Homo sapiens: one gene and its partners. The protein of the gene in region 2 purifies or fractionates together with the protein of the main gene of each other region. This does not show direct contact. Each region holds a gene or a part of one and is shown on either strand. Other genes may lie near its edges.

What was found.
Region 1: the proteins of FPR2 (region 2) and REEP5 purify together in Homo sapiens (co-immunoprecipitation; 3 studies listed by BioGRID and IntAct, with this or other methods). This does not show direct contact.
Region 3: the proteins of FPR2 (region 2) and ALG10 purify together in Homo sapiens (affinity purification with mass spectrometry; 2 studies listed by BioGRID and IntAct, with this or other methods). This does not show direct contact.

Annotation. Positions count from the first base shown.
Region 1 is NC_000005.10:112,884,228-112,891,227, reverse strand, and holds part of REEP5 (receptor expression-enhancing protein 5), read left to right. Parts: intron 1-4,044; coding exon 4,045-4,213; intron 4,214-7,000. UniProt on the Homo sapiens protein: Plays an essential role in heart function and development by regulating the organization and function of the sarcoplasmic reticulum in cardiomyocytes.
Region 2 is NC_000019.10:51,763,761-51,771,404, reverse strand, and holds the end of FPR2 (N-formyl peptide receptor 2), read right to left. Parts: intron 2,761-7,644; 5' UTR 2,747-2,760; coding exon 1,691-2,746; 3' UTR 874-1,690; downstream 1-873. UniProt on the Homo sapiens protein: Low affinity receptor for N-formyl-methionyl peptides, which are powerful neutrophil chemotactic factors. Binding of FMLP to the receptor causes activation of neutrophils.
Region 3 is NC_000012.12:34,017,536-34,025,495, reverse strand, and holds the start of ALG10 (dol-P-Glc:Glc(2)Man(9)GlcNAc(2)-PP-Dol alpha-1,2-glucosyltransferase), read right to left. Parts: upstream 3,001-7,960; 5' UTR 2,897-3,000; coding exon 2,726-2,896; intron 2,720-2,725; exon of another isoform or gene 2,598-2,719; intron 1,535-2,597; coding exon 1,337-1,534; intron 1-1,336. UniProt on the Homo sapiens protein: Dol-P-Glc:Glc(2)Man(9)GlcNAc(2)-PP-Dol alpha-1,2-glucosyltransferase that operates in the biosynthetic pathway of dolichol-linked oligosaccharides, the glycan precursors employed in protein asparagine (N)-glycosylation.

The sequences.
Region 1 (7,000 bases), on a different chromosome or scaffold from region 2:
GGTAGCACGTGCCTGTAATCCCAGCTACTTGGGAGGCTGAGGCAGGAGAACTGCTTGAACCCAGGAGGCAGAGGTTGCAGTGAGCCAAGACTGTGCCACTACACTCCAGCCTGGGTGACAGAGTGAGACTCTGTCTCAAAAATAAAAAATAAAAATAAATATTTGCTTAAATATTTTTGGTTCTAGGATTTGCTTTCCCCTACTGAAAGCTAACATGTTCTCCTGTTAGTAATGTTTCATAGATGTTGTTAGAAAACACAGTATTCTTGGGTCAGAGAAAGTCCTTGCTATGCTTAGTAATTTTATTTTCTTACAAAATTATAGGGGTAAATTTTAAAATTTTCAATTAATACCTATTTTATAGAGGAAAAACCAGACTTAAGTGATTAAGTAACTTGTATAAGGTTTGCTTAGCTAGTAAATGGCAGAACCAGGATTGGAAGTTAGTTTCTTTGAGTCCATCCTGTTACTCTCTATATACTATATTAACTCTTTGAATCCCTCTTTGTTGGGTTGAGAGATCTGTATATATCTTTAGAGTGAGATTTTAGGCCAGGTGCAGTGGCTCACACCTGTAATCCCAGCACTTTAGGAGGCTGAGATGGGTGGATCACTTGAGGTCAGGAGTTCGAGACCAGCCCGGCCAACATGGCGAAACCCCATCTCTACAAAAAGTACAAAAATTAGCCAGACGTGATGGTGCGTGCCTGCATGCCTGTGGTCTTCAGCTACCTGGGGGGCTGAGGCGGGAGAATCACTTGAGCCCAGGAAGTTGAGGCTATAGTGTTTTGTATTTGTGCCACTGCACTCCTGCCTGGGTGACAAAGTGAAACCCTTTTTTATTTAAAAAAAAAAAAAGACTTAAATTTTGTGTTCTTTATTCTGTATTCTTACTAATTTCTAGGTTGTTTTATATATCAACTTTTTTTTGTCTTTTTGAGACAGGGTCTTGCTGTCTCACCAAGCCTGGATTGCAGTGATGGTATCACAGCTCACTGCAGTCTCGACCTCCCAAGGTCAAGCCACCCTCCCACCTCAACCTCCCAGGAGGACCACAGGCATACATCACCAAGCCTGGCTAATTTTAAATTTATTTTTTGTGGCCGGGTGCGGTGGCTCACGCCTGTAATCCCAGCACTTTGGGAGGCCGATGGGGGTGGATCATTTGAGGTCAGGAGTTCAAGACCAGCCTGGCCAACATGGTGAAACCCCGTCTCTACTAAAAATACAAAAATTAGCTGGGCATGGTGGTGTTTGCCTGCAGTCCCAGCTACTTGGGAGGCTGAGACAGGAGAATCGCTTGAATCCGGGAGGCGGAGGTTGCAGTGAGCTGATATTGTGCCACAGCACTCCAGCCTGGGTAAGAGAGCAAGAATCAGTCTCAAAAAAAAAAAAAAATTTTTTTTTTCCTAGAGATGTGGTCTCCCTATGTTACACAGGCTAGTCTCAAAACTCTTGGGCTCATGTGATCCTCCAACCTCAGCCTCCCAAAGTGCTGGGATTACAGGTGTAAGCCTGGCTAGTATATCAATTTCTGATGGAAATGTTAAAATCTATGATTGCAGATTTTGTCCATTTGTCTATATAATTCTGACTTACATTTAAATATTTCAAAGCCATATTTGAAAGCTATCTATAGCTATATATAAATATATAATTATAAAAATAATTCTATTGCAAACATATGCAAAGTTAGATATAATTTACGTATTTCAAAGGTATATACAAGTTCAGGAATTTTAATATTCTTGGTGAATTGCTTTCCTTCTTTATCATCCTATTTACTTATTTTGCCTTAAGTAATTTGTATGTATTAATATTGCTAATGAGCTATTTTGGGAGTTGGTGTTTGTCTGATATATCTTTCCCATAACTTTATTTTCAGTGTTCCTATTTGGTTTTGTTGTAGGTATGTTTCTTAAGCATACAGCTATAGTTTTGGGGTTTTATAAAAAATTTAGTCCTATAGTGTCTGGGTTTTGTTTTGTTTTTGAGATGAGCTCTTGCTCTGTTGCCCAGGATGGTCTCTGCATTTGTCTGTTCTCATGCTGCTAATAAAGACATAGCCGAGACTGGGCAATTTATAAAGGAAAGAGGTTTAATTGACTCACAGTTCCACATGGTTGTGGAGACCTCACAATCATGGTGGAAGATGAAGGAAAAGCAAAGGGATGTCTTACATGGTGGCGGCAGGCAAGAAAGAATGAGAGCCCAAGCGAAAGGGGAAACTCCTTATAAAACTATCACATCTCGTGAGACTTATTCACTACCATGAGAACAGTATGGCAGGAAACCACCCCCATGATTCAGTTATCTCTCACCCTGTCCTTTCCACAACACATGAGAATTATGGGAGCTACAGTTCAAGATGAGATTTGGGTGGGGACACAGCTAAACCATGTCAGTCTCCAACTCCTGGGCCCAAGCAATCCTTGCACCTTGGCCTCCCAAGTCACTGGGACTACAGGTGCATGCCACCATGCCTAGCAAGTCTCTGTCTTAAAAACTCTTGTGCATGTGTAACAAATTTTAATTCACAAAGGTTACATTTCAAGAGTTACTTTTTACTGTAGTTGAGATAAGGGGAGTCTGGACAACATTGTGACACTTGTCTCTACAAAAAAAAGTTATAAAAAATTAGCCAGGCCTGGTGGTTCATGCCTGCAGTCATTCCCAGCTACTTGGGAGGCTGTGGGAAGATTGTTTGAACCCAGGAGTTCAAGGCTGCAGTAAGCCATGTTCATGCCACTGCACTCCAGCCTGGGTGACAGAGCAAGACTCTCAGAAAGAATAATCTGGAGATATTGTTGAGAACTTGGGTTTTGTTTTTTATTTTGAGTGTTATACAAGTTCAAAGTCTAGTATAAATTTCTCAGAGCCAACATGGTGCTGATGGAGTGAGCTATTTGTGCATTTTAAACTGAAACTCTTGTCATTAGTGTTAGCCCTTTATCAGCTTTGTATCTCTAAAACACCTGAAAGACTGTCTTAGAAAACCATCATAGCTTGTTGATTATGAGTACATCCCTTGGTTTGGAATCATAAGGACTAAGACTTAAATTTAAAGCATGAGAAATTAAGATGTTTTTACACTAAGGAGAAGTTGTAAAAAATACTGATTTGGAATCTCTGTAAGTGACTTCTGTTTTTTTGTAGAGTCACCTAGGCTGTGTGGAATACAATGTGGTTAGAATCTTTTAAACTAAAATAACTCAGTATATTGTTTATTAAACTTTCTAGGGAAATGGGCAGATTACTCTGAATATTCCTTTTCCTTCTGCTTTTCTTTTTATCTTAAAAAGGAGTAAATTGCATGGATGACTTGAAGTGACGAGTTGGTATTTATTATTTGAATCAACAGTAAAAATTTTTTGGACATAGTGTGAAAATCCTTATTTAAGTAATTAGGGCAGAATTCTTGTCAATTAAAAAAAAATCTCAATGGCAAAGTAGAGCTGTAAAGAAGGAGTTAGGAATAATAACTACATTCAAGATGAAAGATGAAGAACAACTGTAAAGATTCCTTGAAGGCTAAGATCTACCCAAAACTGAGGTCCACCAAAGGAAGAATTCAGGAATGGACAAGGTATTTTTTCCATAATAGGATGAATAAATGTGATAAACTTACCAAGATAAGCCTACCAAGCACAGGCCTCCTAGATATTAGGCTTATCTGTACAGGGCTTTATACATGCAGATAAGTACTATATTTTCTTAAATTGATTTCTAAGAGTTATGATTAATAAAAGCCTCTTACAGCTATATACTAAAACGTGGTCCAAGTTAGGAAGATAGTTAAGCTCCTGGACCTGGTGTGTTTTACCTTTTGTTTTTTAGTCTCAGCTTTTCCTTACCAGCTCATTACTCATCATGTTTTTTCCATCTAAAGAAAGCCCACCTTTAACCTGCAGAAAACACTGGTAATGCCTTTGGGGAAAATAACAGAGGCATCTCCCATCCCCAGAGTAGTGAAAGACAGTGTGTATTCTCAGAATGTGCCCCCTCCACCCTCCTGTTACCCATGCTGGCTCTTTTTCTGTGCAGTGTGGCTTCCTGTTGTGGTGCATGGCCCCGAGCCCTTCTAATGGGGCTGAACTGCTCTACAAGCGCATCATCCGTCCTTTCTTCCTGAAGCACGAGTCCCAGATGGACAGTGTGGTCAAGGACCTTAAAGACAAGGCCAAAGAGACTGCAGATGCCATCACTAAAGAAGGTAAGACTCAGGAACAAGATGGCCCCACATGTGAGAGGAGATGTGACACACTGGGCTCAAATAACAGGCTTCCTGGCCTTCTTGTCTTATCACCACCCCTCAGCCAAATGCCAACATTACTCTGGGATTTCTTTACAAAGTCTTTGCCTATTGAGAACACTTACAGTTCTCGACTTTTCCCAAGACTCTTCCTCCATGCCACATTTAATGTAGCCTTCAGTCAGAACATTAGGAAAAATGACTTTCCTTGGTAGGCAGCGATTTTAGAGAATCATCTATATTGATATGCAAGTCCATCTCTTCTAATTGTTTATTTAATTTTTTTGTATTATACTTAATTACATAGGTAGTTTTAAATAAATGGAGAAAGCACCTTTCAAAAGCTATACTAGCAGGAAAAATTCCATCAAGCATTTACGTAGTAAATTTCTATAATTTTACAAAAAATTCTTGATCTTTACTTGAACTGTACATGAGGGGAAAAGAGCCCCCTCAGGTATGTGTTCTCTCCACTTGCAGAAGAAAACTAAAGGACCTAAAACTAGAGACAAGCCTGGGATGCCAAAAAGCGGGAGGAGAAATGATAAAGAGCCATTCATGAATTCCATGTCTACTCTAAGACACTTGTCTAATCACCCTCACATAATAAATATTTAGGGCAAACTACCACTCTTTAGAAAAAGTACAACCTCAAAACCTATAGTTCTGAATTGTAACATATCGAATACCTTGGACTGCTGGATGCCAAAAGACAATACTTGGGGTTATCTATGACGTTTAAACAGGTAAATAGGGGAATTCTCTAGGACTGTACACTCTGTGACGTTTTGAATGAAGCGCAGGCAGGCTTCTCTGCTATCCTCCAGGCAGTGTAATAGTCAAGGAAAAGAGCAACAGTATTGGATCACTCCTTAGACACTAACCAGCTGGTGAAAGAGTTCATTGGCCAGTCTCCTCCTTAGAATGGTTTGCACCAAGTGGAGAGGCCATGTCGCTGAAGGGGAAAGGGGAGCCCTCATACCCACAGTCACTGTAAACATCCAGTAGACAGGAAGATGGCTTCGGGCAGTGGCTGGATGGAAGTAGATTGGAGATACCCAGGTCTGGAATGAAGTCATCTTCCACAAAGTCTTCCTTCACTGAGACCACGAATTCTGGGTGATCATTCTCTAAAAGGCTGAGAGGTGCTTCCTTGATTTTCACTACCGCATTAGCTTGGCTCTCTGTCTCAGACTACGGGCTTGGCATATATGTAGTCAAAATTAATTAGTTCATTAATAGCTTCAAGCTTGGCTGATAATGTCCCCACTGACAGAGAAAGGGAGGCTGGTTAGGAATTGGGTCCTTCTGAGTAGACCTCTGGGAGCTGCTCCAGGCTGGCAGACCCTGGGGAAGGACATTTGAAGAACACTAGTGGGTCTAAGTTGTCCAGAATGCCCAACAGGATATCATACTGGGAAGGTAGTTGATGTTTACTTCCAACCCCACCACAACTAACTTCTACCCTCATCTGCCTAGTTAGGGATGTCAAGCATCAAATAGATGGAATTATCTTGGCTTTCGCCTCCTCTTCAGTAACCAGAGCATCCATCCCCAAGTGCTGTCTTCACTCATGGTTCTCAACTACGAGTCCATGCATTTTCTCTTGTAAAAACTGATTTTCTAGCAAAAGTTTTTGGTTCTGTTCTAAATCTACCACTTGCTGTTTCAGGTCACTCATTTGAGCTTGCTTTCTGTCTCTGGCAGTTTGAGCTGCTAATCCTGTTTTTCCTCCTCAGTGCCTTCTCCTTGGGGCTCCCCACCCCCACAGCACTCACCATCTCCTGGCTGGCTCCTCTCTGGGCTGGCACCATGAGCAGCAGGGCCTAGCTGGCCAAGGCTGTAGCAGCAGGCTGACCAGACAGAAGCAGTACTTTGGAGGCCCTGACGGCCAGCCTGATTCAGTTCAGATTGATCGGTTCAGTATGCTGTTCAGTTTTTGTTATGGGTACAAAAGAATGTCCACTCTCAGCTCTGATTAATTCACTCAATAAATATTTATTTATTGAGGTGTTTAATATGTGCCAAGCATGTTCATAACACTGGCAGTGAACCAGCATACCGAAGAGACCATACTCCTTGAATTCATGAAGCTTACAGTCTAGTTGAGAGATAGGCAGTAAAATTGAAAATTAGATAGTATATTTACCATATAATATAGGGAAAAAATAAAGCAAGTAGAAAGATGGGGGGGGGCCAAGGACTGGAGGGATGGTTATGATTTTAAATAGAGACGTTTAGGAAATCTATACCAGAAGGCTCTACTGAATCAGACTCAATAGTAGTAAAGGAATCAGGAACAGTGACTCAGCCTGTAATCCCAACATTTTGGGAGGCTAAGGCAGGAGATCACTTGAGGCCAGAAGTTTGAGACCAGCTTGTTTGTGACAGGGTCTCCTATGGAGACCCGCTCTCTACAAAAATTTAAAAATTAGCCGGACGTTGTGATGCAAGCCTGTGGTGCCAGCTACTCAGGAGGCTGAGGCAGGAGGATCACTTGGGCCCAGGTAATCAAGGCTGCAAGTGAGCTGTGCCACTCTAGCCTGGGTTACAAAGCAAAACCCTATCCCCCTAAAAAAAAAAAAAAATAGAAAATGGTAAAAGAAGGAACCATGGGGAATCATACTTTAGAATGAGCTGCATATACAGAAGTCCGGAGGTGGGAGCAACAAAAGAAGTGATCTAGAGGGGTGCAGGAGGAGATGAGGTGGAAGAAGTTGCGAATGGAGGCTGGAAGACGTATCACAT
Region 2 (7,644 bases):
GTGCTTGAGGATGGGTGTTTACTGGACATGGTCTGGTTCATGTAATAAGGGTTGGAGATAATTTTGATTTGACATTAAAACTTCTCACTTGACACCTAGGTGATACTATTGTTTATTGATTCATTTATTCAATGAGTATTTAATGAATGTCTATTACATATCAGACAGTATTTTACACATAGAGGATGGGGTTCAATCAGCAAACCATACAGACCAAAATCCCTGACTTCAGAGAGCTTACATTTTCGTTGTTTAAAAGAAACTGTATCTCCAAAGGCTGTGCTCTAGGATAATAACAACAAGAAGAACAAAAATCAGAAATTAATAAATACATAAAAGAAAGCATTTCAAGTTTCATACTTTTTTTTTTTCAGACAAAGTCTCACTCTTGTCCCCTAGGCTGGAGTGCAATGGCACAGTCTTGGCTCACTGCAACCTCCACCTCCCGGGTTCAAGCAATTCTCCTGCCTCAGCCTCCTAAGTAGCTGGGATTACAGGTGTGCACCACCATGCCCAGCTAATTTTTGTATTTTAAGTAGAGATGGGGTTTTACCATGTTGGCCAGGCTGGTCTCAAACTCCTGACCTCAGGTGATCCACCCTTCTTGGCCTCCCAAAGTGCTTGGATTACAGGCATGAGCCACCGCACCCAGCCAAGTTTCATGCTGTTTTATAACTTTTAAACAGTTATTATACTATTTTATGCCGATGAGTTTGACAGTTTGAATGAAATGGCCAAACTCCTTGAAATTCAGTTTACCAAAACTGACAGATAGGAAAAAACAAAAAACCAAAAAACAGAAGAGTCTAATCACTGTTAAAGAAAACAAACTTGTTATTAAAAATCTTCCCAGAAAGAAAACACAAGACCAAGTTGGCTTCACTGGTGAATTTTTCTGAATATTTAATAAAGATATAACACCAGAAAACAGAATCAGAGGAATTACTTCTCAATTCCTTTTCAGAGACCATTACAAGTTTCTCTTTGTTCCTTATTTTCTATGAAAACTTAGCAAGGATAGTAGAAAAAGTGAAATAACAGTATATAAACATAAACACAGAAATTCTAACCAACTCCTGTGAGATATAAATATTTAAAGTACATCAGGACTAAGTGTGGTTTATTCCAGGAATTCAAGAGTAGTTTAACATTCAGAACTTAATGAACATTATTTATAATGATTTACATAAAAGAAGAAGAATAATATGACCATCTTAATACATGTAGAAAATGCATTTGATAAAATGCAAAGTCCACTCATGATGTAAGAAAAAGAAACAGAAAACTCTTAGCAAACTAAAAATAGAAGAAAACTTCCATAATCTGATTTTTTTTAATAGCTATAAAAAACCTACAGCAAACATTTTACTTTATACTTTAAAGTCTTCCCCTTATTATGCGCTATCTCATCTAAGTCTTACAAATCCCCACTGGTCTTTCTCTTCTTGTATTTCCCAACTCCACTTACCCCAGGGTATAGGCAGAAGTCAAAAAACAAAAAATAACACTAATATTTTAGTAGCCTGACTGTCTATTTCTTAGCCCCAAATCAGGGACACAAAAGCATTTTTCCTGAATAAATACTTGAGCTGTGCATCCTTGAATGCCTCAATATGACTCAAGGGTAGATGAAGCTGGAACTGGCATTAGGGTAGGATGAACAGAACTCAAAATATCCCTGACCCCATCCTCACATTGCCTGTAACTCAGTCTCTGCAGGAGGTGAAGCAGAATTGGCAGCCGTGTCATTAGTTGGGGCTGAGTCCTCAGACAGGGCCCTCTCCAGACTGGTGGGCAGGGAGTGGATCAGTCTCTCTCGGAAGTCTTGGCCCACAAAGACGTAAAGCATGGGGTTGAGGCAGCTGTTGAAGAAGGCCAGGGAGCTCGTTGGGTTAACCAGGATGTCAATGATTTTGTACTTGCCATAGAACAACATCTCTTTGAGCCAGACGGTGCCCAGAAGGGCAACCAGTTGAAAGGGAAACCAACAGATGAAGAAAGAAGCCACCACAGCAGTGAGGACCCGTAAGGGACGGCTGGATTTAATCATGCCCTTTTTGTGGATCTTGGCTGCAATGAGCCCATAGCAGATGGCAACAATGGACATCGGCAAGCTAAAGCCAATGACAAACCGGATAATCCCTCTGGCTGTCAGCATGGTAATGGCCACCTTCAGCCTCTCCTCAGGGGTGCCACCCCAGGATGCAAAGTTGAAAGTACAGTATGTGTCCCCATTTGGAATAGTTACTGTAGTCAAAAAGAGGAAAACTGGCAAGGTAAGGACTAGAGCAAGAATCCAAGGTCCGACGATCACCTTCATGGCCAGACTCACAGTGCGGTGGTTCTGGGCCCAGACTGGATGCAGGACACAAATGCAGCGGTCCAGTGCAATGAAACCAATCAAGAAGACACTTCCAAAGAGGTTGATGTCCACCACGATGTGAATTAACTTACACAGGAACCAGCCAAAAGGCCATTTTTCTCCCATGGCCATGGAGACAATGAGGAATGGTAATGTGGCCGTGAAAGAAAAGTCAGCCAGGGCCAGGTTCAGGTAACAGATGGTGGTGACTGTGCGTGTCATCCGGAATCCAGCCACCCAGATCACAAGCCCATTGCCCAGGACCCCGAGGACAAAGGTGACCCCAAGCACCACCAATGGGAGGATCCGCAGAACAGTGTAGCCAGCAGACTCATAGGACACTTCTTCATATTCATTCAGAGGAGTGGAGAAGTTGGTTTCCATCTTGCCAGCAGCACCTGAAACATTCCAACAATGGCCATTTCTCAGCTGTGGAACCATCTTACAGCATCTGTATTTATAGCTCACATCAACTTCCACTAAAGCTCCCACTCCTACCAGGAGACCCACTCTATCTACCAAGCCTTGTTGACAACGGTGCTATAGAATTGGCATTCTCTTGGATGCTCCTTTGGGAAGGGATAGTCCTCCATATTCCCATCATTATCAATATGCATTTCGCTTATCGGGCTGATCACTTCACCAAGAGGATTACAAGGCTCATACTGAACTTATGTTGTATGGACAATGGAAAATTGAGCATAGGCAGCCTCAGCATTGTGAGGAAGGCACATGACTCAGAATCAGAAGGCTCACATCTGTGTCTCCCACCATTCAATGCAAACATGCTGGCAAGCTCTGCAATCTCTTTCAGCCCCAGGTTCTTCCAGTCTCCCAACTCCTGTCCCTCAAACTGTGAGAACCCTTGACCTATTGCTTGGCTAGTACTCAAGATAAAGTTTGAGGGTTTGGCTTGAGGTTATTGTTGAAGAGAATTTTGAGGAGTCACTGGTAACATGTAGTAGTATGTTATATCCTGAGGATTCTGCACTAGAGGAAGTCAGCAAAGAGAGTTCCATCTCTGCTTTCTACCCTCTGCTTTTCCCTGTCCCTGCTTGATGTGGAGCTCTTCTCTGTTTGGAATGCAAATAATCAGTGCCGATTTGTATAGCTTTGGTGTCTGTGGGATAAAGACTATAAGAATAATAAGTTGTATTAATACTTGTGAAGTTCTTATTAGAGACTATGCATTGTGTTAATTACTACATATGGGATCCGGTTTGGCCTATGTAATAGCTATGTAATATTCATTACTTCTAGTTTTCATTAGAATAAATGAAAGCTCAGGGCAATTGTGAAATGTGTTGAAGGTCACTTAGGTAGTAGATAATAGATTCAGGACTTCAGTTTGGCATGGTCTGACTTCTAAACCCTTACGCTTGACAGATATTGCTGGTTGCCCACCCAGCAACGGTTCCCCATTCTTCTCTGCTTGAAAAACCACAATTGTGTTTAGTTACTCACCCTGCAGAGAAGGTGTCTTTTCTCCATGTTGGGAGTAAATCCTGACTAGTCTAATTAGCACTAACCAGAATCCCTTTTACTTTGCAAGGGATTGCTTTGGTAGTGGACACGTGACTAAATTGTGGACAATAACATTGTAAGAATATGACCCTTCAGAGCTTCTCAGATCAAGTTTTTTTGTTTTTGTTTTTTTCTTTTAAGAACAAAAACCCAAAACATGTAGTCCCTGCCTCTGGTCCGGATCACATCTGTAATATTTGTATCCAGTTCAACACAAAGTCCCACGTCACCTGAGCACATTTTCTTATGCCGTGGTCTGTGGACTTTATCAGAAACATCCAGGCTGCCTGTTAAAATTGTATTCATTATCCTTAGCAAACTAATGCAGGAACAGAAAACCAAATACCACATGTTCTCATTTACAAATGGGAGGTAAATGATGAGAACACATGGACACAAAGAGGGGAACACTGGGGCCTACCGGAAGGTGGAGGGTGAGGGGAGGGACAGGATCAGGAAAAATAAGTAGTGGGTATTAGGCTTAATATCTCAGTGATGAAATAATCTGTACAAGAAAACACCAGGATACAAGTTTACCTGTATAACAAACCTGCACATATACCCCTGAACTTATAATAAAAATGAAAAACAATTATATCCATAAATCTCATTCTAGAATCTGTATGTGTAAAAGCCAGGATGATTTGCTATGGCCATGAGAATTTGAGAATCATCTCAGACTGGGCTATTCAGCATCTTTAAGAGAAATAGCAATTCCATAGCACTTGTTCACATCTAATGCTCATAATAACATTGGGAAACAGCCATCACATCTGGGGGAATTCATGGCCCGGGGACTTCTGTAGTTTTTTTCAACATCATGCCCAGCCAGTCAGTGGAGGCAGCAAGATACGGAAACCGAGATGAACAACTCCAGAGCCACTGCCTTTGCATACGGAAGTCCTGCCTTTGAAAGGGATTCCCCCAAGATTACTAGGATAGGGCTATGCCTCAGTCTGGTGATTTTTAGCCTTCTTCCTTTTCCTTATTTCCTCCTTTTCTTCCTGCTATTACCAGTGAGTTTCACTGAGGTATTCCATGGGACGTTATTTAATGTAGCTCAGGGTTTCTCAACCTTGGCACCTTTGACATCTGGGTCTGGGTAATTCTTCGTTGTGGCAGACTGTTCTGGACACAGTAGGATGTTGAGCAGCCCCCCTGGCCTCTATCCACAGACACCAGTAGCAACTCCTTCTCCAGAAATGACAATCAACAGGTTCCATAAACATTGTCAAAGGTCCCCTCGGAGGCAAAGTCACCCCCAATTGAGAGTCACTGTTACAAAGAATACTGGGCTCAGCCAGATACGGTGGCTCACGCCTGTAATCCCAACACTTTGGGAGGCCAAGGGGGGTGGATTGCCTGAGGTCAGGAGTTCCAGACCACCCTGGGCAATACGGTGAAGCCCCGTCTCTACCGAAAATACAAAAAATTAGCCGGGCCTGGTGGCATGCACTTGCAGTCCCAGCTACTCGGGAGGCTGAGGCAGGAGAATCGCTTGAACCCGGGAGGCGGAGGTTGCAGTGAGCCGTGCCACTGCACTCCAGCCTGGGGGACAGAGCGAGACTCTGTCTAAAATATATATATATACTGGGCTCTGAAGTCAGCTACATCTCTCTTCTAATCTCATCTGTGATGTCTCCTCACTATGAGTTTTTAGTCAGTGATATCTCTTTGAGCCTCAGTTTTCTGCTCTGCAGAACGAGGACAATTTTATGGTGAAGTCTAACTTTCAGGTGAGGATTAAGTGAGAATAGATGTGGAAATCTTTTAGGCTAGACTGAGTATATCTATGACAAATGGGAACTCTTGGCCCTCACCAGGCTGTGTGCTGTGTCGTGGGGCTCAATCCATTATGAAGTTCAAGGTCAGGACAAGAACGATGCTCATAGCAATAGTTGTTTCTACTTATGAACATTACCCACACACCAAGAGCTTTTCCTTTAACCCTATCAACGCCTCTCACAGGATCTGTGGATGGGCTGTGTTAATATGTGTGAACACTGAGCACTCCTGAGACACAGTGAATATTGATTAATCTTAGTGATATTAGGTTGGTGCAAAAGTAACGCTGTTTTTGCCATTGAAAATAATATCAAAAACCACAAGTACTTTTGCAGCAGCCTGATAATTAGTATAACCATTGTACAGATGAGGAAGTTAAGACTTAGATGGGCTGCGTTAATTGTTCAACGTTACCAGGTAGAAAGAGTAGAGACAGAATTGGAGCTCAGCCAGATTGATTACAACAGAATTGTGCTGTTAACCCTTTTCCACCCCATAGTTCCTCAACAGACTCAGATTTTCTCTATCCACACTCCAAACATTCTACAAGACACTTAGAAGACATGATCTATCCATAATTTCAAATTCATTTTAAAATGTTGATACAGGCTGGGCGCAGTGGCTCACGCCTGTAATCCTAGCACTTTGGGAGGCCAAGACAGGTGGATCACTTGAGGCCAGGAATTTGAAACCAGCCTGGCCAACATGGTGAAACCCTGTCTCTACTAAAAATACAAAAATTAGCTGGGCATGGTGGTGGGTGCCTGTAATCCCAGTTACTTGGGAGGCTGAGGCAGGAGAATCACTTGAGTCTGGGAGGCAGAGGTTGCAGTGAGCCAAGATCGTGCCACAGCACTCCAGCCTGGGTGAAAGAGCGAGACTCTGTCTCAGAAAAAAAAAAATGTTGATGCAACAAGGAAGGATGATTGTGCAATGACAGGTGAGGACAAATTAACAAGGCAAAAATTGCAAAGTTTTGGGTCCACCCTAGTTGTAATGTAAGGAGGAGAACTGCGAACCACAGATGATACCTGTACTGATTATGAGGTCTGCTATTTGGTGAGTCCTTAATATGTGCCAGTCACTATATATTTTATCATCTCTGATTACAATACCCTTGCTTTGGGACAAGTGCTGTCCTTGTGTAACAGGTAGGAAAGTACGGCTCAGAGAGCGGAAGTGACTTTCACAATTATCGAGGGTTGCAATTGAATTTATGACCACAGATTTCAAATGAAAACTCAGCAGTTCCTCATTAGGTTACTCTACTTCTCCAGCGCACTCGCTATCCCACACCTTAATTATTTCAGTCCTGCTTTCTCCAAAAAGTACCTCATTTACTCTGTTTTTCCCACTCTCAGCAGATGCCCTTGACTGACATTATAATGAGAAAATGGTAATAACTAGATGTGAAATTTTCAGCCGGTCCTCCCCTGACCCTCAGTCTACCTGCCTCTGTCACTGTGAATAAAGACTTCTTGTTCTTTCCAATAATTTCCCTCCCTGCATTGGCCCAGGATGCCCTCTCATCTTCCCACAAACTTTCCCCCTGCATTTGTCCTTCCATTTTCTGCCAAAAACAAACCCTCAAGATTTTATTTCTACTAGATCATTCTCACTATTACATAAACATTACATAAATCATATCCCCTCCCTTTAAAAAGAAACCATCCTTGGCCAGGTGCCGTGGCTCACACCTGTAATCCCAACATTTAGGGAAGCTGAGGCAAGTGGATCACTTGAGGCCAGGAGTTTGAGACCAGACTGGCCAACATGGTGAAACCTCATCTCTACTAAAAATACAAAAATTAGCTGGACGTGATGGCACGCGCTTGCAATCCCAGCTACTTGGGAAGCTGAGGCAGGAAGACCTCTTGAACACCGGAAGGCGGAGGTTGCAGTGAGCTGAGATCGCACCACTGCACTCCAGCCTGGGCAACAGTGACTCCGTCTCAAAAACAAACAAACAAACA
Region 3 (7,960 bases), on a different chromosome or scaffold from region 2:
TATGTTTTAGTGCCTTCAGTAAGGATTCACTTAGCCATAATGAACCACTTTCCTTTAAGGAAATCCTTCATAACTCTACACAAGGGAGAATATAAACATGCATATGGTATACTACCATACCCAGACTTACTTTTTCAAGATGAAATTTTCATGATGAAATAACAGGTATTTTTCTGAAAAGTGAGCCTGTCTAAAGTTATATATCTTCTTTTGGCCTTTCTGACATGCTGTTTCAGAATTTGAAAGTGTTCTTATGTTCTTGAATTGTATACTCCACTTAATCTAAATCACCAAATCAGACCATGCCATTTCCTTGATTAAAATTAAGGTCTTTACATTACATGCTAAAGTTCAAAGTCCTCTCTGTGACACATAAGGGCATTCATGACCTACTTCTCTAGCCTTACATCCCTCTACTTTTTAATCCTGTAATTCCAAGACCAATTCCCTGCAACTCGTTGTTCAATGCCTTTCTTCCTTTTCTTATGTTGTTTGTCTCCCCAGGATTAATTCCCCACCCTACACAGCCCTATCCGTTCATCAAGACTCAGCTCTGGTACCATCTTCTCTGTGAGGACTTACCAAATGCCACATACTCCCCTCCCTCCCAGAAAAGCAGTAAGTGTTCCCCTGCTCCTTCTCTGTATCCTCATAGCATCTTATGTTTACCACTCTATCATAACTGACACTACTGAAATCATCTCTTAAGGTTAAAAATAATTATTAGAGTTAATATTTACTGAACCCTTACTATATCTCTGGCACTGTTCGAAGCATCTTCCATTTATTAAGTTTCTTTGTTCCTTTATAACAGTTCTATAAGGCAGATTCTATTGTTATTCTTATTTAATACATGAAGACATGGAGCCACTAAGGGTTAACCTGTCCATGGTAACAAAACTGGTTAAGTGGCAGGGAGAGAATTCTAACCCAGGCAATCTACCTCCAGGGCCTGCACTGTTATCACATCAAAAGTCCTCAGGTAAAGTCTGTTTTCCCTAATGAATATATACGTTTTACAAGAAAAAGACTGCCTCATTTATCTCTGTAGTCCCAGTCCCTAGCACATGGAATAAGTTCAGTAAGTATTTATTGAACTGGTTTGACTCACTTAACAAATATTTACTTCAGATTTTACAAATAAGTTATTCAAGTATTTAAATACGAATTTATTCTAAAATGGAGATGGAGGATTTAAATTTACCTTTACATAATATACAAAAATACAAAGTTACAAAGTGTTAAAGACATTTTTCACCAAATCTCATAAAACTAATTCATTGTAATTGTGGACCTGACTACACATAAACTTGTAATTAAGTATTTTGAAACATACCTTGTTTCTGGGTTGTACCTTGCAGAAAAGCAAATATAGTAAATAGAAGTTGCCAACACTGAAGAGAAGATTAACAAATCTGAGCATCCCAATGGAGCAGACAACATGTTCAGACCATCCAAAGATCCAAATGGCAGGTTTGATCACTCCAATTGACACCAGGTACAAGCCAGGTAATGTAGTAATCATGGGATCCCACTTTAAAATGAAAGAAAATGAAGTAAAAGCAAGAGGTAATAGGAACAAGACAGGCACAAATATGTCAAGCCCAAGTCTCATCTCCAGCAACAATCAGAAATTTTGAGAAGTTATTCTATGACAAGATTAAGTAAGTCCTTGGCAGAACAGGATTCGTTTTTCTTATTTTTTGCCCCCGGACCAGCTTAGTGATGGTTCAGGTAGCAGCAACCAATAAACAACAACAACTTAAAATCTATTTCTATTTTCCAAGAAATGTTCTTTAAAAGCCTTTATTTTGATAAATAAACTGCAAATGTTCCAGTTTTTAAAAGCATGGAAACATTGTTTGGGACTCTTAAGTTTAGGAAAACATTTGGACCACAGGCTCCATGATGACAGCTAACATAAACTGAGACAGAAATTGTTGCCAAACCCTCTGTATTAACGTTACAATATGCCCTATAGTAAAGATTATTGTCATTTTGCAGATGAGTAACCTGAATTTCTGAAACTCAGAACATCTCCAAGATCACAAAACTAGTAAATCACAGCACCAAGATTTAAGATCAGATCTTTCTCTAAAACAGACTTTATATTTCTAGCCAGTACCCTATATTGTGTCACCAGAGAAGCAGGGGATGCTTATTTTGATATTTATATGTACATACTTGCACAGTCAAATATATACTCAAAAATGATGTGACTTGACTGGTTGCCAGTTTATCCAGTTAACAGTTCACTAAAAATACCCAGGGAAGGAATTTGTGATTATAAATTGTCACTTTTTGGTAGCTGAAGATCCCTCCAGTCCACCCTATCCCACCCCTAAAATGCACAGTGAGGTGCTTGACAGGTGAGCTAAAGGAAAGTTTTCTGGTATTTCCAAGGAGCACCCGAATGCCTTTAATCCTAAAACAAGGAAAGACAAAGTGGGATCGATATCGTCAGCTGCCAAGAGGAGGGCTCAGTTCCCCGTTGAGTATTCTCCCAGATCACTCCTTCCTGGAGGACAGATCTGCTGTTTATTCATTCATTTAATAAATATTTCACAGATCTCAGAGACAGGAACAAAAGACTATACCCAGTTTCTTTCATGTTCTGAGGCTTGAGGGGGTGGAACAGGACGAGTGAAGTCTAAGGATGGGAGGACGTGGGGACGCTGGGACCTCTCAGGCCTCTCCTGGGGTGGGGACAGGTTGGGGACCCCACCTGGGAAAGGGAGAAATGGCCCTCACAGTAGCGCTGCGCCTGAGGCAGGTGGAAGATCTCGTCCATGTAGGGCTCTCGCAACGCCCGGCTGAAGGCGGAGAAGAGGAGGCAGGATACTAAAAAGGTACAGCTCAAGGCGGCCGAGAAATAGTAACCTTCCAGCTGCGCCATTCCAGCTCCCACAGCCACTGCCCAAGAACCTACTCCTGGAAAATTCTGAGCCTGGAAACCCGAGCTGGAAACTTGGGCTCGAAATGGGCGCGCTAGGCGGGACTAGCCAGACGGGGCCACATACCGGAAGGCAAAGGATGCTGGGAGAGCGCGGATCCGGAAAGATCGGGTCGCTGTTTCCCGGAGTGACGGGTTTAGATAACGGACCGGATGATTACCCTCTCAATCGCATTGCCCGGGGCGCACAAAGTGTCAAAACTTCCGGAAGGGGCGGGTCTCGGATTTCGCCAGCGCGGGAGGTGCGTGGCTTGCTGCTTAGAAAAAAAAAAAAAAAAAAAAAAAAAAAAAAGCCGCTTCTTAGCTTGGATCTTTTTTCCTGCTCACTTCCATCACTTACCAGAAGGTGGCGACGTTTCCCCACGTTTCCAATTCCAAGCCCTAAAATGGACACATTTTTTCCCCCGTTATTTCTGTTATTTCTCTCCAGTGATCCGAATTAATTAAACCCTCAATTCCAAGACATTTCATTCCATCAACTTTGGAGTGTAGGAAGGGTGCGTTGGTTGTGATAGCAAAGACTGAGAGTTTTAGATGAAAACTTGAAGAACCAGAGACCCGTCAATGCCGAATGAACTTCAGTGAGAGGAGTGTTTGTTCGTTTGTTTGTTTAGGTTAAAAGAGAACTCTTTCAAAATGTGGATGCTCTCAGAGGATTTAGTTAAATTGACATTCCTAGTGCACTTTCATAGTCATATTACCCTGTAGGATTTGGAAAATACATATATATTTTAGAATTCGGGATGTTTTAGGTGTGCCTGTAAATTTGGTTGTTAATATCTGTAAGGCAGCCTTCTGTTTTTCCTACTAAATCATAAGCGTGAACATCTTAGTGGGTGGCATTATACATCCTTTATGTTTGTAGTCCCCAAAATGGCTTTCACACAGTAGGCACTTAAATTTGTGGACTTTTATAGGCTGTGTAGACATCATCAAATTCCTGTATTCTGGGATTAGGTGCTGGGGGCAGGAGATGAGGTAAATAATTTGAAGAATGCCGAAGATAAATTATGTGTTGTAATTTTGTCTTGAGCATGGTTGGCCATGTTTTGTAGAAAAACTATTTCTCAGGTAACCTCAATCAGGTTGCCTTTGGCAGGAATATATCAGAATTTAGGCGGGATTTAAGGTTGCAAACCTCAGAGTTCTCAATTGAGCTCTTTTTCTGGGTTAAAACTAATTCAGTATTTCTAAACTTAAGAAAGTTTCTTAAATTAAGCTGACTGCCTTTCCATTCTGTCTCTGCCTGTTTCCTCAATGATAAGAGGAAGTAGTGGTGAATGAGGGCTGGGATGGGAACATTTACATTACTGGAATAAAGTCATGTGAGGATCCTACTCTGATGTGATGCTTAGCTTTGTTTTAACCATTATCTCCCATTTTATTGTTGAGTCCATGCTGTACTTATCTGTTTAAGTCACTTGTAACACATCTCCAGATGATTCAGTCTTCAAGAGGTTGATGTGATCTACAAGTAATTAGCTCCTGACCTGTTGACCTGCTAAATCGTGTTATATATACTCTGCAGCTTACTGACCCACCCTAGAAATAGTGGGTCGTTTTTAAAGGGAGTAGAACAAGACTAGACATTTATGCTCTCCATTTTTCTTCATAACAATTGCCACCAATAGTTTATGTTAAACATTTGACTCCTATACATGCTGCACACATCCCTTTACATAAAATGGAAAGTTTCAAGGAAATATGGGGTTCTAGAATGGGTAGGGATCTTTATTAATAATCTACTTGACTTCATGTTATAAAAGAAGTTGGTTTTAAAAAAATGAATGATTTACCTAAAATTACATAAAAAATTAGTGTCAGAACCAAGTGTAGGAATTAGAAAATCAGACCAAGAGTAATAAAATAACTTCATAGCCTTATAGGTTAAAATAATCTACAATGTATACTGAACTGAATGTTTCACTAGTCCCAATAACTTTACATTTACATTCCACTCTCCTCTGTTTCCATACACCAAGTTGAAATACAAGTTTCATCTTTTAAAAAAATGTTCATGTTACAGACTAATTACATCAAAATCTGCTGGGGGAACATTGTGAAAAACTAGATTGTAGAGAGCCATCTCAAATCACTGAATAATAATCTTCATATTTGGAAACGATTGATGTAAAACATATTACCTGAGAATGCTAAGAAGCTCCATGGGCCCAGTAGAGTTCTTTGTAGAGTACTTCACTCGTTTGTTAGTTATTTTTACTATCTGCAAATCGATGAAGCTGTTGTCACTTTTCTACTCTTAGATTACAACATCTTTGATAATCTTGAAATGCTTTCCAAAGCTCTGCTCCTAAATCAAGACCTATTAAAATAGCTACCTCTGGGGTTTTAATGAAATAGATTACATATTATTAGACCTATCATTTAAAACTAGATCAGCATTAATTTCAACTTACATTTTCCATTCAGAATTCCAACTGCCATTTTCCATAGATGTTTGTGAAAAAGAGTCATTAGGATGAGCAATCCCATTGTCATTGCACATCAACTATTTATTTGTGCTACTTGAATTATGATAAGTAAGTTATGGCAGAAAAATGGGCAATTTCTGTTGGGGTTCTAAGGATAGGTTGTTTTAGCAAGAAATAAATCTTTTTTGTTTATAAGCCATTAAGATTTTGACTTTATTTCTCCTGTATAACCTAGCTTACTTTGATCAATTAAGACATTCCTAATTTGATGAACTCGCATAACATTGCATATACTTAACTGTTTGAAACAGCCATATCTGAACAGTGAATTTCCCCAAAGGCTGTAACTGTAATAACTTTGAAGTATTAGTCCAAGAAACACCCTGCCTCTTATTGCACCCCTTTTCACTTGTTGCTGAATGAAAACATTGGCCACTTGCTAATCAGAGTGACGGTTTACTCCTTTCTAGGTGACAATTCGTTCTAGCTACAGCAGAGTACTGCACCCTGGGCCAAAAATCACAGATGATAAGCTCTAAAATGCAACTATACCCTTGAGGTCAATCTTAACATATCAATTTAAAATCTATATTTTAAAATTAATGAATCAATTAAAAAAAACACACACATTTTAGTACAAAAGCATTAGCAAGTATTTTAGCTCTACTGAAAATGTCTTGAAGACATTGTATAGGGGACTGGTTAAACCTAAGTAACACACACACGGAGAGACCCTTCTAAAAAACAATAATATTTATTTGGGATTGAGCATTACAGTTAGAATACAATGAACATAGGGAGGTAAAAGAAGACAAGGGATTTTAAAAGAAAAATGAAGAGGGTTACATAAATTGCTTTGAGACAATTATCCTTGGTTACAAGGACTGGTAGAAAGGGTGGCACCAGTTTGAGGTTGGACAGGCAGTTGCTGGGCAAATGTCCTCACAGAAGTAATTTTTTGTGAGATTGTGGTGGCCTTTGTGCAAAGTTGTGGTTTGTGCAGTCTTTTGTCGTAGTTCCTGTTGTCAGGCATACACGCATATAAACCCTCCCTTTCTGGTCTTCCTTAGCTCCATTTTTCAGGGTTTTTATGCAAGTGGCCCCATTTTGATTCTGATAACTTTCATAGAACAAATCTTTCTGGTTTGTGGCAGACTTTCCAGTTTTACCCTTGAAAGTCTCAGGCCAGGTAAATTCTGTAGTATCAGACAAAGAGAATGGTTGGTGATATGGTTTGGCTATGTCCCCACCCAAAATCTCACCTTGAATTATAATCCCCATAATCTCCATGATCCCCATGTGTCAACAGAGAGACCAGATGGAGGTAATTGAATCCTTGGGGCAGTTTCCCCGGTGCTGTTGTCATGATACTGAGTGCGTTCTCATCTGATGGTATTGTAAGTGTTTGATAGTTCCTCCTGCATTCATTCTCCTTCCTGCCATCTTGTAAAGAAGGTGCCTTGCTTCCCCTTCGCCTTCCGCCATGATTGTAAGTTTCCTAGGCCTCCCCAGCCATGCTGAACTGTGAGTCAGTTAAACCTCTTTCCTTTATAAATTACCCAGTCTTCAGCAGTTCTTTATAGCAGTGTGAAAAAGGACTAATACACTTGGTCATTTAGAAAGATATACCATACAACCCAAAGCAAAACTTCCTAAATATTTTTTTATAACAGTGGTTCCTAAAGTACCACAGCATTAGTATCACCTGGGAACCTGTTAGAAGTGCAAATAATCAAGTCTTGCCTTAGACCTACCGGAAAACAAATCTGATAGCAGAGGGAGCCAAGTAATACGTGTTTTAACATTCATTTTGTAATCAATTATGATTCCCTTAGATTACCAAGTGGACCTGATGGACCTGAAAGTTTGAGAATACTGCTGTCCTCTACATTTCCCTTGCTTTTCTGATCACTCATGCTGCTTTGTCCCCTGGCTTCTCTGATTCTTCATCTCCAGGCTTCACCCTACCAAGAAACAAAGTTCATTGCCAATGAACATATAGACGATGTTCCTCCTCAGCAGCTGAAGAAGAGGAACTTAAATACTTACAATTTAATGGCTTTTAGTTACATATATTTATATTCAGACAGATGTCTTTTCTTTCAAAAGACTATGTGAAGGGGAACTTTGCTTTTTGCTAAAATAAGCAGCTGAAACACCATAGTCCTACAGCTATTGCTGCCAGTTAGATAAGAAACATTCTAGGAAAAGAAAGAGAATCATAAATTGATTATTAAATGAACTGGGCTATTATACTGATGAAATTACAGTACTATTAAATCAACCAAAGTAAAAAGTTAGAAGAGAAGACATTGAATTAACTTTAATTCTTAAATAATTTCACAGTTTAAGAGACGCAGTAATATGATCTTACTAATTTTAAAATTTCAGACGTTAGAGTGAGATTTATGATACAATTGTTATTACTGAAAAGAGGGAGGTTTTGTGAAATATTGAGGAGGGTTTCTGGTTAATTCCCTTTTGGCTTTAGAAGCAGAGTAAAACAAGTGGGCATCCTTATGAGCATTAGGTACCCTGCACTGGCTATAAGTTCGGCATACATTCAGAATATTAC